Linked DNA regions of Homo sapiens. Changing the gene in region 4 together with the main gene of any one other region gives a genetic interaction. Each region holds a gene or a part of one and is shown on either strand. Other genes may lie near its edges.

Region 1 (3,602 bases), on a different chromosome or scaffold from region 4:
GCAGGTGGAAGCAAGTAGTTCTCTTTGGAGAAAGTAGAATAATTTTTTCAATGAGCTGATCTACTTTCTGTCTTGATGAGTTTGCCTGTTCTGGACAACTCATAAATGGAATCAGACAGGTAGCATAATATTGCTTAGGTTCATCATGTTGCAGTGTAGTGTTCCATTGCATGGACACACCGCATTCTGTTTTATCTACTCTTCAGTTGGTGGACATTTGGGCCGTTTCCACTCTGGCTACATTATGAATGAAGCTGCTACAAACTTGTGTACAAGTTGCTGTGTGGACATATATGTTCATTTCTCTTGGGTAGATCTTCTACATTTTTTGTTGTTTATGTTTTCCAAGAGCTTATAATAAATAGTCCCATTTATTCACATGCTTAGTTTCTTTTTTTTTTTTTTTTTTTTTGAGACGGAGTCTCACTCTGTCGCCCAGGCTGAAGTGCAGTGGCGCGGTCTCAGCTCACTGCAGCCTCTGCCTCCTGGGTTCAGGCAGTTCTCTGCCTCAGCCTCCCAAGTAGCTGGGATTATAGGCACCCACCTCCACACCCAGCTAATTTTTTGTATTTTTAGTAGAGACGGGGTTTCACCATCTTGGCCAGGCTGGTCTTGAACTCCTGTCCTTGTGATCCACCCGACTCGGTCTCCCAAAGTGCTGGGATTACAGACGTGAGCCACCGCGCCCGGCCCACATGCTTAGTTTCTATGTTCCTGTAACTAATTTGCCCTAAATCTTGTGACAGAAACTTGCAATGTGGTGGTCAGTTCCTTTCTTTCCTGTCCCATCTGATGGCTATGGTTTAGGTCTGCTCTCCCTTCACTTATCTTGGGACAACCCCTAACCATCACCCTTGGGGGCAATGTTGAAGCTCTTCTTTCCCAGTTCTTGATTTTTACTCACTTATTTTAGTGGAGCACATCCTCCAGTGGCTTCCTGAGAAAGAGTACATTTAGGTAACTCTTCGAGGCCTTGCCTGTCTAAAAACATCTTTCTACCAACCTCATTCCACTTTGGTAGTTTGGCTGAGTTTAGAATTTTAGGTTGGACAGAGTTTTATGTCAGAATTTTGAAGGCATTGTCTGATTATCTTCTTGCTTCTAGTAGAGAAATCTGATGCCATTTCCATTCTTGATCCTTTGTGTGACCTGTTTTCTTCTCTGGAAGCTTTTGGGATCCTGTCTTTATGTTCTGAATTCCATGACAACGTGCCTTGATGTGACTGGGCCGACAGTCACTGTCCCAACTTGTTGGGGCTCTGGAGAGCTGTGTCTGATACCTGAATTCATGCAGTCCCCCTGCCATCAGCCTCCTTGTCACCTGAGCCTGCAGAGGAACTTCCAGTACCTGAGCCTTTCCATGGCACTGATTTGGGCCTCTGCTTGCTTCTCTCTGCAGACACCCAGTTTCATCTTTGGCAGAGTATCCTGCATGCAGTACCTGGCACTGAATAGGCACTCTGTAAAGGTGTGTCTAATGAGGGAAGGAAAGCACCTCAAGTTCAGTCTGGGTGTTCACACCATTGGGAAAGTTGGAGTGGCCAACTGGCTGAGCTAGGAGTGAGTGTTGGGGATGGTTGTGGTCAGCACACCCCTAGGAGGTGGAGGTGGGAGAAGAGTGGAAACTGACTTCACATTTCTCCAGGGAGGGATGCTTTGGAAAAACTGCTCAGTGAGATGAAGCACAGATCTGCTTTTCATCCCTTTTGTACCTTTTTAAAGACATAAGGTATGTTTTGACACTGGAGTATATATGAGGGTTGCTAACGTTTGGGTTGAAAGAGCTGCTGTTGTCCACAGCTTATTTATTTTCCACCCATTTTTGTCTCCTGGTCTCATCCAGTTACATTTCCTGGGATATGTTTTTGGAGGTTGCTCAGATCACGGCACTAGAGTCCCTTTGGGTTTCTCCTCCCTCCTCTGTCTATTTGGCCTCGCCCTTGACAAACATTCCCCACATTCACACCCAGGCCTTTGGCCTAATGTTCTTGAATGCTGCTTGCCTCTCATTGAATAGGCTTTTATGTAGCTCTCATATTCAGTTCATATTTTGGCATTTTAAAAAATATATATTTTTGCTTCTTTCTCAACTAGATCATTTCACTCCTCAAATTTGTAATTAAAAAAAGGAAATTCTCAAGCAGTTTTATTCAATTAGAACTTTGCAAATATCAAATTGTCCGTATCCTTCTGGATTCTCGTCTGAACATTGCTTATCTGCGTACATATCACAGTGTTTTCACATAGGGATTGCTGTATGTTGAAGTAGTTGAGGTGTAATAGCCATATAATCTAATGTGATCCATCTGAATAGGCAAACCCTTGCACACCTGTGTACCTGTTGAACATTTTCATCATTTGCAGTTTTTTCTTAACATAAGCACTGTTCTGAATACTTGTGAACAAGTCACTTGGGAGTTTGTTCATGGGCGTGTATCTTCCAAAGAGGAGTCTTCAAGTTCAGCTGGGTAACACACTATCAGCTGTAGCCCTTTCATTTTAAAAACATTTCCAGTGCTGCAAATTACTATGGTGATTGGGAATTACAACTTGGAAATATTTTTATTTTTTTAAAAGATAGTACATTCATATGAATCAAAATAAAATACATAAAAAGGTACTATGAAAAGTCTTGCTCCCGGCCCTACCCACTATCTGCGTAGTCCCACCGCTCCCTCACAAGTAATTAAATTTTTAGTTTCTTTTACCTGCTTCAAAATGTATTTGTTATTACAAAAGAAGCTAATAACAAATATTGATTTTAGTTTTTGCTTTGCTTTCCTTTTTGACTGAAAAAGTTAGCATGCTATAAGCCCTGTTCTTCTGTGCCTTGCCTTTTCCTTTCTGCTTACCAATGTATCTTATAGATCATCCCAGACTTTTTCACTGCTGCATGGTTTTCCATTTGATGATGCCCTGTAATTTATTCATCCAGTCCTTTTTTGATGGACATCTGAAGGTATTTTCAGTCTTCTGCTATTAAAAACAATGCTGCGAATAGCTTTGTAAATTCTTCCTTTCACACATGTGCAAGTCTAGAGGCAGGAGCGGTTACCAGAAGTGGGATTGTTGGATCAAAGCCAGGGTGGTGCTGTCTCCGACATAGTTGTCGCAAGAATCCAGTTAGGTAAAACATAAGAGGGGCTGGTCACAGTGGCTCATGCCTATAATCCCAGCACTTGGGGAGGCCGAGCCGGGTGAATCATGGGGTCAGGAGATCAAGACCATCCTGGCTAACATGGTGAAACCCTGTCTCGACTAAAAAATACAAAAAATTAGCCGGGCGTGGTGGCATGAGCCTGTAATCCCAGCTACGTGGGAGGCTGAGGCAGGAGAATCGCTTGAATCCAGGAGGTGGAGGTTGCAGTGAGCTGAAATCGCACCACTGTATTCTAGCTGGGACACCAGAGCGAGACGTCCGTCTCAAAAAAAAAAAAAAGATTATAATGGAGCTATTGCCATACCATCTAGGTGTGTGTAAGTATACTCTGTGATGTTTGCACAATGAAGCAGTTGCCTAATGACACATTTCTCAGAATGAATCCTGTTGTCAAGTGACACATGACTTTATTTGATAATGAATACAAGACCATTTCATCTTG
Region 2 (3,631 bases), on a different chromosome or scaffold from region 4:
CCACCCGCTGTCCCCCTATGGGGGCAGAAAAGCAATAATGTCCAGGGGCAGGCAGGGGCCCTTGGGAGCTGCAGGGCTGGGGGTTAGGGCTGCTCCCTGGTGAATGGAGTCAGATCCTAGGATCTGTACCATGGGGAACCAGGAGTGGCCGGGCTGGGTGCCGCCTCCTGGTCCGGCCTCCTCCCCACCAAACTGTCCTCACCCTATGGATGAGGCAGGAGGAACATTTGGGGCCAAACCTGCCTGCCTCCCAGCCCCGTGCCTTACTAGGGCTTCCTTCCAGCTGGCCTTACCTCCCGCTGGACCCTGGGCCTGGCCTGGCCCCACTGGGGGCTATGGGCTGGGCTCACCCTCTCCTCTGCGGGGGTGGAGGGCCACCAGCCTTGGCTGTTACAATCTTACACCGGACAGTATTGGGCCCCATGGACTTGGTCAGGGAGGGGTGGGGGTGGGCATCTCTGGTACCTATTGGGGTGGGGGGCCTCTGAAAAGGGAGGCTCCTAGGCCCCCCTCACCCCTCCCTCTCCCCAGGGCCCCACGTTCTGCAGCCTTAAGGTTGAACATGAGTGCACGTCCATGTCAGTGCTGTGGGACTCCTGTGCGTGCCTCGGACTGCGTGTGTCGGCGGGACGCAGGCACACGTGGGTGTGTGTGCATGTGTGTTTGTGTGAGGGCAGCGTGTCCTCCAGTGTGCATGGTGTGTGGGCTTGGGCCCCATCCCTGGCCCGAGCATTTCATCCTGTGGGGGAGGGGTGCTGACCTAGTGGGAGGAGCCCCACTGTGATCCATGAGCTGCCCTGCCCACGCCTCCCCTCCCTGTAGCAACACCTCTGGGTGTTTGGAGTTTAGCTTTTGTGGGTTTGCTCTCCCTATCCCATCTCCTGTACTACACAGTTCATGGCAGGGTGGGGAGGGGTGGGGTTGGTTCGGGTGGGTGAGGGTCTTTTTCCTCTGTGTGCGATGTTGTTATCTGACAGTTCTCCGTCCCTACTGGCCTTTCTCCTCGTCTTCATATTTGTACGGTACAAGCAATAAAGACACTCATTTCAGACCAGGGCCCAGCCTGCACTCACGCCAGCCCAACCACTCTGGGCTTTGCCTTGGTGATGGAGTCAGACCCCTGGGCCCCAGCTCCTCCTGTACTAGCCGTTCCCTTCAGCAAGGAGGGCACTGAGCTCAGGGTGAGGGCAGCTGGGGTGTGTGCAGGAGCTCAGGCTGGAGAGGGTGGGTGGAGCTGGTGCTGTGGGGCTGAGGGGTATGGGAAGGCTCCCCGCATGTGGGGGTGGGGTGGACAGAGACCACTCCAGGCCCTCAGTGCTGCTTAGGCTAAGAGAGGTGGGGTGGAGGGACAGGGCTGGAAGATCTGGGTAGCCCAGAATGAGGAGGGTGCCTGTGCTGTCACTGAATGAGAGGGAGTGGTTCATTCCACCCGGCTGCCGAGCCTCAGAGGGGGGCATTCCTATCCTGCCCCACCTCCCTGTTTATGCTGCCACCTGGAAGCCTTGAGGCCCCCAAATTCCAGTACAGACCCAGTGGTGTGTTCATGGTGGCGTGGTTGCTGTCACCTGGGAGCTCCTGAGCGTTTGGTTAGAACCCTGTTCAGCTTGGGGTCAGCCCTCCCCTAGTCACTGCCCTTTAGCCTGGATGTGTCTGGGCCCCTGCACTTCCCGTGCTTGAGTCACGTGGCTGCATGGCCGGGCGCTGGCCGGATGGAACACCTCCCCCAGCAAGGGACCAGGGACCAGAGCCCTGGCCTGCCCTGCTGAGCCCTGCTGTGCAGAGGGCCTGGCACAGATGAATTTGAGATTTTGCCGCAAGGTGTTAGCACTTCACACCCATTGAGTCTTTGAGATTTTAAGTGAATGTAAGCAGAAAAAGTCAGATCCAATTTACAGAAATCAGAGTTAGCTACAGCTAGGACTCGTTTGGTTGGGGTTTTTTAGTTTGTCTTTCTAAAGTCATGTGGACCTTAATTTAATTACAAAAGTCTACCCTGGTGGTCATAAAATAGGCAGGCCTATGAAGAAAGGCCTTTTACTCTTCCATCTCGTCCCAGCCCCGAGTTGACCCACGTTGCTGCTCCTCACACCATGGTGATGCAGGTCTCGTAGTGTGGGCACAGGCCTGGCTACCTCATCTTTTTAGTGCCTCTCTCCTCTTCCACAGGATGGGGTCCCACAGCTGCAGCAGCTGGCCCCGTAGTTGAGCATGTGTGGTTATCCTGTAGAGCTTTTCCCAAGAAGGGTGTTTGAACTTAGAGTCTTAATAAAATCTTACCAAATAAATTTTGAGTAGAATAATCGTCTTTTGCAATGTACATTTTAAAAATTTCACACATTCTTTTTTGTATATAAAGAACAGTGACTGGGCACAGTGGCTCATGCCTGTAATCCCAGCAATTTGGGAGGCCGAGGCGGGCGGGTCTCTTGAGGCCAGGGGTTCGAGACCAGCCTGGGCATCATAGGGAGACCTTCATCTCTACAAAAAATACAAAAATTAGCTGGGCATGGTGGTGCATGCCTGCAATCCCAGCTAACTTGGAAGGCTGAGGTGAGGTGGGAAGATCACTTGAGCCCAGGAGTTTGAGGCTGCAGTGAGCTATGATTGCGGCACTGCACTGCAGCCTGGGACAATGAGACTGTGTCTCTAAAAATAAAAAAAAAAAAAACATGATACATGCTATTAAAAAAGACAGCAAAGCAGGAGTATAAGAAAGGAAATTCACCCGAGGTCGCAGGGCCTTGAGTACTCATTTTGGTGCTGATTACCTCTCTGCAAATGGACACGGCATCATAAATTGGTAGTTTCCTGCTCTTTTTGTGTAATCTTTTCCAGTTAATGTGAAGCCTCTGGGGGCTGCCCTCGTGCACTGATGGTTGTGTGGAGTCGGGGGCGGCAGTGCGATTCCCTTTTAGCTGCTGCATGGGGGGAACTCAGGCTTTCCAGCTGCTTCCTGGGGTTCCATGGGGTAGACCCCTCAACCGCTTCAGCTGCCCCGTTAACAGGAATTGACTTGGTTTCGTTTGGTGCTACCAGCAGTCCTGTAATAAACTAGCTATCCATCTGTACTGTGCTGGTGCTTTTGTTTGTCTACATCCCAGGATTTTAATGTCCAGTACCTTTCCAAAAAAGTGTAGCCATTCAGATACTTTAAATTTTGAAATAATTGCAGACTTGCAGAAAACTTTCAAAAATAGTGCTGTACTAAGATTATTCCAGGCCTGGGGCAGGAAATGTACAAGATGAGCCTGGGGCATCTTGCAGTGCCTGAAAGCACGCACTGATATGCTTAAGTCACAGGGACACAGGAGCCAACAGAAAGCTTCCAGTGGCCAAAGCTGAAAAGAATTTGAACAACAAAATAAATAGCATAATATTGGGTTTTCACCTAAAATGTGAAATAAGTCTATTGCTAAGTGGCAAAATGGGGAGAATATGCAAATCTACACAAAATCATAAGTAATTTCTGTAGACAGCCTTCAAGGAGGGCTATGGAACCCCCACTTCTTAGGCGTGGGCTGCAGTGACTCCTCCAAAGAGTGCAGTGTGGAGAGGGGGAAAAGTAACTTTTCAGTGAAGGTCCCTGGCAAACACTACATCATCCAGCCAATCGAGGCAAACACTGCTGATG
Region 3 (3,581 bases), on a different chromosome or scaffold from region 4:
CTCCACGTTAAATGACATCTAACTGGTAGCTTGAAATCAGCCGTGGTGGGAGGAGGCTTGACTTATGGTTACTTGTCTAGACTTCAGATGATAAAATGCAGATTAGACTTCAGGGTGCTGTGTCTATGCTCATTACATTGTGAATAGCACAAGTTGAGGAAACGCTCTTCTAGTTTCCGAAAACCATCATCTGATTCAACAAAGTGGCTCAGATCACCGACGAAGTGGAGAAGCTTGACGTTCTCCTTGTTTCCCTTTTGTCTTACTCATTAGCTTGAAGGAAGAGGAGCCAACTGTACACTCACAGAGGGGGCCATCAACACTCACATGCACACACCGTCTCACCCCAGAGGTTCTGGACAGGCCCGAAGGCCAACCTTGCTGAAATTCACCACCCTCTTTGGGAGGTGACCTTTCACCACCTCCCACCTCCCTGACAGAGAACTGGCCAGGCCTGAAAACCTCAGGAGTGGGAGCCACGCTCCCCCTTGGATTGGAATGTGAATGTCATGGGTCTCTGCCCGCGTTCCACACCTGGCCCCAAGCCCCCAGCTACCTGCTGGCAGCCTAGGAATAGCACATAGTCTGGGCAGCAGAATCAGGTTTATTGGAGGGATTGGGGGTAGGATGAGCACGGCATGGGGCTTGAGGTGTGTGGAGGGAGCTCAGCAGGCCCAGAAGCCCCCTTCCACCGGCAAAGTGGAACCCGTGGTCATGCCACTTCGGTCACTCAGCAGAAAGAGGATGGCGTTCACCACGTGCTCTACCTCTGTGGGCAGGGCGGGGGTCAGGGGCATAGAGGAAGGAGGCTGCCGCCCATCTTTCCCTCCCACCCCTACCCAGGGCACACACAGGGACTGCTGGCACCACGCTGGCTGGGCTCCCACCTGACTCACCAGCAAACTTGCCAAGTGGGATTCGGTTCAGCATAGTCTTGGCCTTGTGGGGGTCACTCCAGGTGGCCTGGCCCATGGACGTCATCACCACTGTGGGGTTTACTGCATTCACTCGGATCTACACCGGGACAGCTGGGGTCAGCAGGGCAAGTGGGGTGTCCTAGGTTGGGGGAGGTACCCCAGCCCTGCTCACCTTGTGGGGCCCGAGCTCTAGGGCCATCACCTTGGTCAGCATGTCCAGGGCACCCTTGGTGGAGCCTACGAAGAGGAACCCAAGCTGGCTGGGGCTGGGGTCGGTGATGAGGGCGAGGCTGGGGCTGGGGTGGGGCTGAGGGCACAGCTGGGGCACTCACAGTAGACGCTATGGTTAGTTACTGCCCGCTGGGAGCACTGGCTGGAGACATTCACGATGGCCCCTGGGACTCCCCGGGCTATTAAGCCCCTGGCCACAATCTGGAATCGCAGCGAGACCGTGAGGCAGAGCTGGCATCACTCACGAGAATTCCCGTCCAGCCCACAGGGCAGCTCACCTGCGACACCTGGATGACCGCACGCAGGTTCACCTCAAAGGATCTAGAGGCCGAGGGACAGACCCTGGTCAGAGATTAGGGCTGCTGCGTCCTCCAGGACAGCCCCTCCCTGAGGTTCCTCCGCCCTCACAGGCTCACCTGTCAAAGGCCTCCTTGGTGACCTCCAGGAAGGGCTGCAGCAGGGCGACAGCGGCGTTGTTCACCAGCAGGTCCACGGGGCCCACGCTGCCCAGCGCCCGCTCGGTGGCCTCCCAGTCACCCAGGTCCACGCACACGGGTTCTATCCCCGGGCACTGTGTGTATCAGGGGGCAGTTACCAGAGGCTCTGTGCCCAGCAAGCGGCACAGCTGGGGACTGGGGCTGGTGACCTTTCAGCCGGACAAGTAAAGGAGTTAGGAGTTCCGAAGGTGTCGGGACTGTGGGGCCAGCAGCCGGGCGCTACCTCCGGCCGGTTCACTTCCTCCCTGCGCCCGAGCGACTCCTGCCCGGGGCCTGCTTCGCAGCCATTTCGGCCTCTTTCTGAGCCCGGGGGCCCCGGCGGCTCTGCCGACCACCCGGCCGCCCACGCAGGCCACCAGCCCCGAGAGAGGGTGCGCGGGCGCCCAGGCCGCGGTGAGAAGCGCAGCGCCCGCGAGGGGAGGCGGAGTCGCGCACAGAGGTACCGCCCCCGCTCGCTGCCGCCCCCTCCTGGCTCGCCGCCTCGCAGCGCTGGGACCCGGCGGGACCTACCTCGCGGACAAGGCTGTCAAGATCCGCCTGAGTCCGGCTCACAGCCACCACCCGCGCGCCCGTCGCGTGCAGCGCCTGGACCGTGCCGCGCCCTATACCTGCCGGGAGCGGGCTCAGTGAAGGCGTCCCCTGCCCGCCTCTGCCCGCCGCCGGCCTTTGCCCACCTTTCCCCGCCGCCCACCTTTGCCTGCCCCGGTGACCAGCACCCGGCGGCCCGCGAGGAACAGCTCCATGTCGGCGCAGTCTCCGCCCTCCGCACTGGGGCTGCGGAACTTGAAGCTCTGGCCACGATGGGCGGGGCGCGGCGGGGCCAATGGCAGGGCGGCCTTCAGATAGGCGGTGGGGACATTCAAATAGCTGCTCCCCGCTGCAGTGATTGGCCGAAAGGAGTGGGCGCGCCGGGGCGGGGCGGGGTCTCCGCTGCCTCAGGGACGGGTCTTTTGAAGTGCCTGGTGTGACCCATCTTCCGTGCTTGAAATCGACGTAGTGGACCCTGGCTAGCATATTTTTCCCTGCCAAGATTATTGCAAAAAGACGATGTGGTGGTTAATATCGGAAAGAATGTGTGGTTAATATCAGGAAGAACACGTGAAATGGAGAATTTCAGGGCTAACATTTCTTGTTTTGTTTCTGAAAACATCGGCATGTCCTAAAAAGTGTCGCCTGTGCCCATCATCTCTCAGGCTTGGGAGCAGGACACCGCCGGCTCACTTTAAAGCCAAGGGAAAGAATTTGGACAACCAACTACGTCTGGAGAAGACACCAATGTCAGCAGAGCTCCGCTTTCATCTGTGGGCGAAGGATTACCTAGATGCCAAGGCAAGAGACTGAAGACACAAACTGTTTCAGTATAACAAAGAAAATAGGCCGGGAGCGGTGGCTCACGCCTGTAATCCCAGCACTTTGGGAGGCCGAGGCGGGTGGATCACGAGGTCAGGAGATCGAGACCATCCTGGCTAACACGGTGAAACCCCATCTCTACTAAAAATACAAAAAATTAGCCGGGCGCGGTGGCGGGCACCTGTAGTCCCAGCTACTCAGGAGGCTGAGGCAGGAGAATGGCGCGAACCCAGGAGGCGGAGCTTGCAGTGAGCCGAGATTGCGCCACTGCACTCCAGCCTGGGCGACAGAGCAAGACTCCATCTTTAAAAAAAAAACAGTTAAAATAAAAATAGTCATAATACAAATTAGATATAAAAATGATCATGATCATGGATAATTATCAATCATTAGTATAAACATTATTAATCATTAGCTTTTAATATTACTCTTTGTTGCATTACTAATATAACCTAGGGACATTGTGAGAAGTGACCTAGAAGGCAAGAGGTGAGCCCTCTGTCACTCCCGCATAAGGGCTGCTTGAGGGCTCCTTGGTCAAGCAGTAATGCCGTTGTCTGGGAAGCCACCCGTTACTTAGAAGACT
Region 4 (3,602 bases):
CTGAAGCTGCCCAGTCAGATAGGCATTTATAGCCCCCACTTAAAGGCCACAGAACTTAATTCCTGTCAGGTTGTTGAAATTTAGCCCTAAGGGAGCTACAAGTCATTTCCCTGGTCATCTCAGGTATTCAGTAGGTCTGCTTGGCCACAGAACGCAGACAGCAGAAATGGAACCATAGCTTGATCTCGTGCCAAGGGCAGGGCTGAAGAGGCCCTGGAGGGTGGCACTGAGTCAGTGACAGCCCAGCACTGGGGAAGCCTGTGTCTCATCCCACTTGTGGTGCCTGAAGAATTTCAGCCTGACAGGTGTAAATGGACACCTCAGTGACCTTAGCAGTCACTTATGTGGTACATTAGCACCTTGTCAGAATCCCTTTGGGGAGGATGCGGCTCCCCACGGGAAACAGCCTGCACAGCCCAACTCTCCTTGATGGGAAGCTATTTGGTACAGAAATACAGACCCAGTAAAACTTCTCCATCTTGTAAGAGCCTTTCAGGCATCGAGGTTTCAATAAATTGCTTTCCCTCCAAGCCCCACAGGAAGAAACTACCTGGAACATGATTCATACAGTTCGGGGGAAGAGGGTTGCGATCTAAAGTGTTCCCCTTCTTGGAGGCGGGGGCTTAACAATTCCTGGACTCTGAGGGAGGCAGTGGAAAGATGCCCTGGCAGAATATCTGGCGCCCTAAGAAAACAGATTCCGTTCGTTGACAGGAGAGTTCTTCATCATTGTCTAGTTAGGCCTGGAAGTTCTGCCACCAGGATTTCTTGTTACCAGTTCAGAAATCACAGTGGTAAAATGATCACAATGGGCTCACTGTGGTTGACAGTTTGTTGAGCAGGACTTGGAAATCCGAAATCTGTGCTTTTATCTGGGTAATTAGTCTTTTAGAGATATCATCTAGTTTTTTTGCAGATAGTTGAGAATCAGGGAATGGAGGAAGTGTGCCCAAATATCCTCCAAAATATATAACTTACTGATACATGTAATTTTAAGCCACTTACAAGCTTTTTAGTCAAATTTCCACCTAGGGAAAGGAAACGGACCCCTCACTGATACGAAGCTAATTCCACGTTCTCTACAGACTTCTGTTTCGACACTTACTTCCTCAAAATGTTATTTACTCCTTATGGCTCAGTTTTCTGCACTTCATGCTTTTCTCAGTTTCTTGCTGTGATATGGTTGGGTCACATAAACGGGGCTTGTCCCCTGAAAAATGACATTGAGGGAATTGGCAGAGCTGGGGCATAGCAGATTTTCCCTGGACCAGTCCCAGGATCTGGCGACCAGAACCATCCCACGCGTTCTTTGGATGATGGCTTGGTACCTTCTGGCTGGCCAAACGTCACTATCCAGTGTTCTAGCATTATGAAATCCTGCTCTTGTAGCAGCTTCTCAGTGTATCTGAATAATCCAGATACTCAAGCAAGAGTTTGGAAGGAACTTGAGTGTAATGGAGTTAAAGAGCCTTTAGATATTGGGCTTTCAATTTTCCCCCCCATTTTGAAATGTGCCTCGTTTAGCCTGTTTTCTCCACGGCCTCTGTGTAAACAGACTGCCTCATCTTCTGTTGCATTGCGGCCGGGGGTGCCCATAACTTGGACTTAGCTACTCAATCCTCACTTAGCCTCCAGCTTCTTTGTGGTTTTGCCAGCCCAGCCTGAAGGGAGAAGGAAGTCTTATTCTGCCGTGCGTGTGGGATTAAGTTATCGAGAATAGCCTCCTTGTGATCTGACGCAGACTCACTGGCTGGGCCGTGTCTTCCACCAGGGCATCTGAGTTGACTACTGAGTTGTATGCTAGTCACCCAGATTCCAAAAGGGTTTTCTCCTCTCCTCTATTCTGCACTCTTGGAACCAGTGCATCCTTCAAGAGAATGTAAATCTGCATTGAGGGAACAAGAGACAAGGAAAATGAGATGATGACAACATAAGTAAGGCTGCTCCTAGAATGCCTGATTTTCAAAGTAAAGTCCTGTTACCATCTCCCAACAGAGCTGTCCAGTTCTCCCCCAGGACCCTACCATCAGGAGCCCTACGTCTGCAAACCCGAAGAGCGCTTTCGGGCACCCCCTATTCTCCCCCCACATCTCCTCCAGGTCATCCTGAACAAGGACACGGGGATTTCCGTAAGTATGTGGGCATCTGCCCGGACCATCCGCCGTGGGTCATGTTCAGTTGCTTTCTTTCCTGTGTCCACCTCTTGCAAAGCAGCTGGTGAGCAAGCTCAGTGTCACCCCCTAGTGTGAACTGTGCCGTTCACCTCTGCTGTGGGGATGGGCTGATAACAAGAGGTTCCCAGTGTGGACACCGCTGCCTCGTCTTGCAAAGCCTTTCTGCACTACTCTTCCTTGTCCTTCACGCCTGCCTCAGTCTAAGCCCTGTTCAATTTACATTTCATGACAAACTGTATCACCATCTCTTCTTAGTAAGCTACATGCTCTGGCCCCCACATTTTAGAATCTAGTTTTAATCATTCAATTGCTTTTAGAAATATCAGTACTCCTGGATCAAAATTTGGGATATCTAGGTAACACACATTTCTCCTCCGGGAAATTATTACATGCAGAAAAGAAGTGTGTGTCCTCCTGGATCTTGAAGAACAGCCAGTTCTGTTGTGATTCTGTTTTCTGTTCCATCTAACCTGGATTGCCTGCCCAGTCCGCCTAGCTCTGGGATGCATGGCACAGCCGTAATTCTTGGGAATCCAGGAATTCAGCTTGGTCCAAGCTACCTCTTAAGAGGCATTGTTTACGAGGTGCTTAAAGTAACCATGCTGCTACTGAACACTCCACCCTGAAGTGGAGGGCATGTGTGCTGAGACGAGGAATGCACGTGTACACATGCAGGTGTCCCTACAGTGGTCCCTGCCGGGCTGCCAGGACAGGGTCTCAGTGCTTGTTACCCTACAGGGTACCCAACAGGGCTTGCCTTTCTCAGGTCACCTCCTGTGCTGGGAGTGCCCCTGCAGCTGGGTAGCCATCCTGGTATAGGCCCAGAAGAGGCCAGTGGTAAGGACAGCACGCCTCAGCTGGCAGGGCCCACCATCTTTCCAGCACTGAGTTGGCAACAGTCTCAAATAGGTCACAGGTGAAGAGTTTCAAGGACATGTAGCTTCTGCCTTAGAAGCACTTAGTTGACACTGCTTCCCTTAGCTCTAACTTTACAAAGGTTGGTGGGTAAGATGACTTTCAGTGCCCTCCTAAGCTAGTGAGGTTTGTTTTTTTTTTTTTTTTTTTTTGAGACGGAGTCTTGCTCTGTTGCCCAGGCTGGAGTGCTGTGGTGCCATCTTGGCTCACTGCAAGCTCCGCCTCCCGAGTTCACGCCATTCTCCTGCCTCAGCCTCCCGAGTAGCTGGGACTACAGGCCCCCGCCACCACGCCCGGCAAATTTTTTGTATTTTTAGTAAAGATGGGGTTTCACCATGTTAGCCAAGATGGTCTCGATCTCCTAGCCTCGTGATCCACCCGCCTCGGCCTCCCAAAGTGCCGGGATTACAGGCGTGAACCACCGTGCCTGGCCAGGTTTTGTTTTTTCTAGAAAAGGGAGGCATCACTAGCCATCTTCTCTGATGGAGACTGCTGCTGGGAATAGACAAGCTG

What was found. A genetic interaction does not mean that the proteins touch.
Region 1: changes in PRKAB1 (region 4) and SREBF2 together harm fitness less than expected from each alone (positive genetic interaction), as found in Homo sapiens cells (one large-scale study listed by BioGRID).
Region 2: changes in PRKAB1 (region 4) and AKT2 together harm fitness less than expected from each alone (positive genetic interaction), as found in Homo sapiens cells (one large-scale study listed by BioGRID).
Region 3: changes in PRKAB1 (region 4) and DCXR together harm fitness more than expected from each alone (negative genetic interaction), as found in Homo sapiens cells (one large-scale study listed by BioGRID).

The regions. Positions count from the first base shown.
Region 1 is NC_000022.11:41,839,566-41,843,167, forward strand, and holds part of SREBF2 (sterol regulatory element-binding protein 2), read left to right. Parts: intron 1-3,602.
Region 2 is NC_000019.10:40,229,754-40,233,384, reverse strand, and holds the end of AKT2 (RAC-beta serine/threonine-protein kinase), read left to right. Parts: 3' UTR 1-3,068; downstream 3,069-3,631. UniProt on the Homo sapiens protein: Serine/threonine kinase closely related to AKT1 and AKT3. All 3 enzymes, AKT1, AKT2 and AKT3, are collectively known as AKT kinase.
Region 3 is NC_000017.11:82,035,295-82,038,875, forward strand, and holds DCXR (L-xylulose reductase), read right to left. Parts: upstream 2,404-3,581; 5' UTR 2,389-2,403; coding exon 2,337-2,388; intron 2,254-2,336; coding exon 2,156-2,253; intron 1,720-2,155; coding exon 1,565-1,719; intron 1,470-1,564; coding exon 1,427-1,469; intron 1,350-1,426; coding exon 1,250-1,349; intron 1,155-1,249; coding exon 1,090-1,154; intron 1,015-1,089; coding exon 897-1,014; intron 770-896; coding exon 666-769; 3' UTR 564-665; downstream 1-563. UniProt on the Homo sapiens protein: Catalyzes the NADPH-dependent reduction of several pentoses, tetroses, trioses, alpha-dicarbonyl compounds and L-xylulose. Participates in the uronate cycle of glucose metabolism.
Region 4 is NC_000012.12:119,674,542-119,678,143, forward strand, and holds part of PRKAB1 (5'-AMP-activated protein kinase subunit beta-1), read left to right. Parts: exon of another isoform or gene 1-1,885; intron 1,886-1,995; coding exon 1,996-2,129; intron 2,130-3,602. UniProt on the Homo sapiens protein: Non-catalytic subunit of AMP-activated protein kinase (AMPK), an energy sensor protein kinase that plays a key role in regulating cellular energy metabolism.